Linked DNA regions of Homo sapiens: region 2 is linked to region 1. A link means that fine-mapping ties the variant in region 1 to the expression of a gene that starts in the linked region. Tissue or cell type: whole blood. Region 1 holds a variant in brackets; the other region holds the start of a gene. All regions are shown on one strand. Distances are between the middles of the regions. Region 1 has its middle 37 kb from the start of SHB. Region 2 holds the start of SHB (SH2 domain containing adaptor protein B).

Evidence for each region. PIP is the estimated chance that this variant, and not a neighbour inherited with it, causes the effect.
Region 2: SHB starts here. The variant in region 1 is fine-mapped to the expression of SHB in whole blood (TOPMed, PIP 0.92).

What each region holds. Positions count from the first base shown.
Region 1 is chr9:38,104,441-38,107,448 of GRCh38, forward strand. No RefSeq gene overlaps it. Among named protein-coding and RNA genes, the nearest start is that of SHB, 37 kb to the left of the region's middle. The variant T/C (reference allele first, on the strand shown) is at 1,643.
Region 2 is chr9:38,068,132-38,070,631 of GRCh38, forward strand. It overlaps SHB (SH2 domain containing adaptor protein B), which reads right to left and starts at 1,096. Exons shown (of 6, transcript NM_003028.3): 1 at 1-1,096. The coding sequence starts at 514. RefSeq lists an enhancer at 1-336 and silencers at 227-276, 697-1,506.

The DNA.
Region 1 (3,008 bases):
ATAATTATGTATCGCCATAATGCATTTTAAAAAATAAAAACAACCATCTACTTATGAGAGCTTTCCTAACAAAACAAATCTGAAGACCAAGAACTAAACTAGGAAGTTCTTTGAGCCTTTCAAAGTGGTGTCAGAGTATGGGCACTTAAAAAATAGATTCTGTCTAGCCTTTATTTTTATTTTTATTTGTTGATGGAGTCTCACTCTTGTCGCCCAGGCTGGAATGCACTGGTGCGATCTCAGCTCACCACAACCTCTGCCTCCTGAGTTCAAGCAATTCTCCTGCCTCAGCCTCTGGAGTAGCTGGGATTACAGGTGCCTGCCACCACGCCCAGCTAATTTTTGTATTTTTAATAAGGACAGAGTTTCACCATGTTGGCCAGGCTGGTCTTGAACTCCTGACCTCAGGTAATCCACCTGCCTCAGCCTCCCAAAGTGCTGGGATTACAGGTGTGAGCCACCATACCCAGCCCTGCCTAGCCTTTTTACTCTTTGTTTACATATAGTTCTAACACATTTGGCTGCCAGATTACTAGGCCATGGTGAATCCAAAAGGAGATGGAAGCTTCTGGAGGCAGGCTCCTCATTCCACCCTTTAAGTGATCTTGACTCATCCCCCTATTGGTTATCCCATACAAAGCTGCTGTTGGTGCCTATGCCGTCTGTGAAATTGTTCTAGGTCACCTTCAAATGGCCTGCCCTGTACTCCTCATCTTCCATTTTCCTGATTCCTATCCACCCCACCACTGCCCAGCCTTTTGTCCTCACACCTGGCCACTTCAATTGGTGGCCAGGTTTTGAACAAGCTATTCAAGCTGTGATTTTATTTTATTTTATTTTATTTTGAGACAGGGTCTCCCCTGTCACCCAGGAGTGCAGTGGCGGGATCATGACTCACTGCAGCCTCGACCTCCTGGGCTCAAGGGATCTTCCCATTCAGTCTCCCAAGTGACTGAGACTACAGGTGTGCGCCACCATGCCCTGCTAATTTTTGTATTTTTTGTGGAGACAGCATTTCGCCATGTTGCCCAGTCTGGTCTTGAAGTTCTGAGCTCAAGCGATCTGCCTGCCTCAGCCTCCCAAAGTGCTGGGATTACAGGCATGAGCCCCTGTGCCAGGCCAACTGTGATTTTAGTATTCAGCTTTTCCACTTACTGGTGGCATAGAAGTCACTTAACCACATTAAGCCTTGTTTTGTTTTAATCTGTAAAATGGGAATATAATGATTTCAATCGCACACATTTGTGTGTGAACGGTAGATGCCATAGTGTGTGTGAAGGAATAAGCAGTCACCAAGGGCAGCTGTTCTGATGATCTGGCCTCTGTTTGCCTGCACCATGGCAGTCGGTTGTGGCGGTCCCCAAGGGGAGACCTTGCTCTAAGCAGGCCCAGGATTTCAAAGGCAGGATTTAAGAGGACAACTGTGGTCATAATGGTAGTTGGAAAGACAGAGGTGAGAAAACTTTAAAACTCAGGCACTAAAGGACCCTTGTCTGGGTCCTTTAGCTCAATATCCCCTATCAACCTCCAAGAGTGTCATCTCCATAAAGCATCCTAGAGCCTAATGCCTGTGACTGTCCTCCCTTCATTTCCTAAGCAAAAGCGTATTGGTACTCATTTTGTGCCAGGTACTCCTGCCAAC[T/C]GGAAAGGTAGAGATAGAGACCTCTGCCTTCAGGGGGCTCCCATTCTTGTTGAGCCTAAGTCAGGGGAGGAGGAAAAGAATAATAATTTATAGATACTGTTTAGGCTGAGCCTGGTGGCTCATGCCTGTAATCCCAGCACTTTGGGAGGCTGAGGTGGGCGGATCACCTGAGGTCAGGAGCTCCAGACGAGCCTGGCCAACATGGCAAAACCCCGTCTCTAATAACAAATACAAAAATTAGCCAGCCATGCATCTGTAGTCCCAGCTACTTGGGAGGCTGAGGTAGGAGGATCGCTTGAACCCGGGAGGCAGAGGTTGCAGTGAGCTGAGATTGCACCACTGCACTCTAGCTTGGGCAACAGAGCCAGACTCTGTCTCAAAAAACAAAACAAAAGACATTTTATGGTGTGTTTTAGAAAGATTTACCTTCAAAATGATTATACTTCTTAGTTTATATCTGAAATAATTATAGTTTTAAATATTTTAGCCAAGGGAAATCTTCAGTTATCATTCAATTTCGTTTAAGTGGAATGGAGAGTATCAGCTTTTGCTAGGTAACGATGAGTCACATTTAATGAGTGTTTACCATATGTCAGGCTCTATCCTAAGTGCCTTATAGTTCTCTTAAGTTCTTTGATCCATAACAGCCCTATGCAATGGTACAAATATTATTCTTGTATTGAGTATGAGGAAACTGAAACACAGAGGGGTTTAGTAACTTGCCCAAGGTCACATAGCTAATAAGTGGCAAGCTTGGATTTGAACCCAGGGAGGCTGGCTCCTGAGAGAGAAGGAGCTCGTAAACACTATATTTTAGGGTGTCCCATATAACAAAGACTTACTTTCTTTGGATTTTTTTACCAAGTGATCATTCATGTAATGTATGTATGGACACTGTCACAGAATGTGCAGGTCAGTCAGGACAAAGTGGGAAAATCGGACACTTGATATCTTGATTCCTTCCTTTCCCCTTGCGATTTTACAAAGAAGGAAATTAAAGCCCAAAGACGGGGCAGGGGACCGGCCACCACCAGGAGGGTGATGGGCTCCCTGCCTCCCTCACAGTTTTGGCCGGGTGCAGTGGCTCACACCTGTAATCCCAGCACTTTGGGAGGCCGAGGCAGGTGGATCACTTGAGGTCAGGAGTTCAAGACCAGCCTGGTCAACATGGAGAAACCCCATCTCTACTAAAAATACAAAAATTAGCCAGGCATGGTGGTGCATGCCTATAATCTCAGCTACTCAGAAGGCTGAGCGGGAGAATCACTTGAACCCGGAAGGTGGAGGTTGCAGTGAGCCAAGATTGTGCCACTGCACTCTATCCTGGGTGACAGAGTGAGACTTTGTCTCAAAAGGAGAAGAAAAA
Region 2 (2,500 bases), 37 kb before region 1:
TGGCGGGCCGCCGCTCGCTGCTGCTGCGGTAGAGATGCGGAGAGCCGGAGGACGAGGACGAGGACGCGGCGGCCCCCGCGCCCGAGGAGGCGCAGCAACAGCCCGCGGCGCCCGACGCGGACGAGGCCGAGAAGGCGCGCTGGACCCCGCCTGGCTCCCCGCTGCCGCCGCAGTAGTCCAGGCGGCACATGGCGCGCAGTTTGCGCAGCGACGAGCCAGGCCCGTTGTAGGGGTCCTCGAAGTCTCGCTCCTTCTGCGCGCGGTAGGCGCGGATGAGGTCGCTGGTGCTGCCGCTGTCGTCGGGCAGCGAGCCCGAAGAGGCTGAGAAGCAGGAGGCGGTGGCCGGACCGCAGGACGCCGAGGCGGCGGAGGAGGCCTGCGGCACGGCCTGGGGGGGCTGCGAAGGCCGCTCGCCTCGGCGCCGCTGCTCGCGGTAGTCTGGCCGCGGCGGCTGCGGGGGGCTCTTGGTCTTGCTGTTGCCCAAGCTGAAGTACTTGTTTAGCCACTTGGCCATGGCGAGAGGCCGCCTAGGGCCGCGGCGCGGGAGCCCGGTCCGCCGCCGCGGCCATTCGGGGGGCAGCGCTGCGGCGCAGGTCCCTCGGCGCCCCGGCCCCGGCGGGGGGCGTCCGGGGCGCCCGCTCCCGACGCCAAGTTCAAGTTCTTGCCGCCGCCGCCTCCTGCCGGCAGCTCTCTGGCTCCGGCGGCTGCAACACCTCCCTCCGCCTAGCGCCGCCCAAGCTAGGAATCTCGCGCCCCTCGTGGGCGCGTCTCATGGGGTCCCGGCCCACGCCCGGGGGAGAGCGGAAGGTCCGAGCGCTCCACGCCGCGGACCCTTTGGCCGTACGCCCCTCGCCGTGGATCGCGCTCCTGCCCCGTCGGAGCCGCAGCCTCCGCCTTGGCCGGGATCCGCGGCTGCCGCGGGAACTTCTCGGCGTCCTCGGCTCCCTTCTTCCTTCCTGCGAGCGCTGGGGAGAGCTCGGCCCCGCAGCGGAGGAGAATGCGGCCGGGAGAGACAGCGAGCGACGGAGGAAGGCAGCCGGCGCCCGCCGGAGCCCGCGCGCCCGTGCCCGTCCCGGCGGCGCCTGTCGCTGCCACTGCCGCCGCCTCCCGAGCCGCCGCGTGTGTGACACTCAGGCCGCCAGAGCCCGCCCCGCGCCGCCGCCCCGCCCCCCCGGAGCCCGCTCGCGCGCCCCGCCCCCCGCCCGCTCCCGCAGACCCAGCACCGCCCATCCCCGCGAGCCTGGCCCCGGGCCGCGGCCCAAGCCCCGCCCCCCTCGCGCCCGGGGCCGGGGTGGGCGCACCTCTCCGCTCCTGCACACGCCACCTCCCGCGGCTGCCCTGGCGCCAGCACCAGGGTCTTGCCCCAGGGCGCTGGGGTCCCGCCGCGCAGCCGGCTCCACCTAGCTTGCAGCTCGCCGCCGCCTCGGGCGAGAGGTTGCCTGGCGGAGCCTGCTACGCGCAGAGGCCAAACCTTTCCGCAGTCCCCCGGGACCCCGCGCGTTGTTCACTCCAGGGATCCCCCTGTCGGGGTTGAGGAGGGAGAGTGGATTAACACGGAACCTGTCTAGTTTACAGCGTGGCCCGTGTGGAGGAAATGCAGTGCCTAGTGCCCTTAGGGACAGAGTGGCTGTCCCTCTTCCTTAAAGGGACAGACTCCGGTTCAGCCCCGTGCGCCAGGTCTTCGGAGGAATCTTTATGCTAATGAGTGTATTAGCAGTCCAGATGACGGATGTGGTCGGGATAGGCGGTGGGAGCCGGGCCCAGCACCAATCCGAGAGCAAGGCTAGGGGAGGTCGGAATGTTTGCTTACCTTTTCACCTCTGAGGAAGTCGAGGCTTTAGCCCTGTTCGCTGCCAGCCGGCGGGGAGCAAGTTGTGGGAACATTTAATGCCTTATGTTGTAGGAGCTGGCAAGGATCCATTTAATACAGGACCTCGGCCGGGTGCGGTGTCTCACGCCTGTAATCCCAGCACTTTGGGAGGCCGAGGCGGGTGGATCACGAGGTCAGGAGTTTAATACCAGCCTGGCCAAGATGGTGAAACCCCGTCTCTACTAAAAATACAAAAATTAGCCGGGTGTGGTGGCGGGTACCTGTAATCCCAGCAGCTACTCGGAAGGCTGAGGCAGAGAATTGCTTGAACCTGGGAGGCAGAGGTTGCAGTGAGCCGAGATCACACCACTTCACTCCAGCCTGGGCGACAGAGGGAGATTCCGTCTCAAAAAATAAATACAGGACCTCATTTTACAGATGGAGAAACTGAGGCCCAGAGGAAAGTCACACAGGTGGACTTGGATGCCAGTTCCTAAGTCGGGTGGCACCATAATTATGTCTTTTCCAAGAGTCTCTTCTTTGCGATTTCAGATCATCCTTTGATTATTAACCAAAATTGAGGAAACAGTCCCAGGGAGTGGCCTGATTTGGTCAGTGTAACTTTTCCTGGGATCTGCACCCAGGGGAGGTGGCATGCTCCCTGTTGAGAGGGAAATGCTGCCTAAAGAT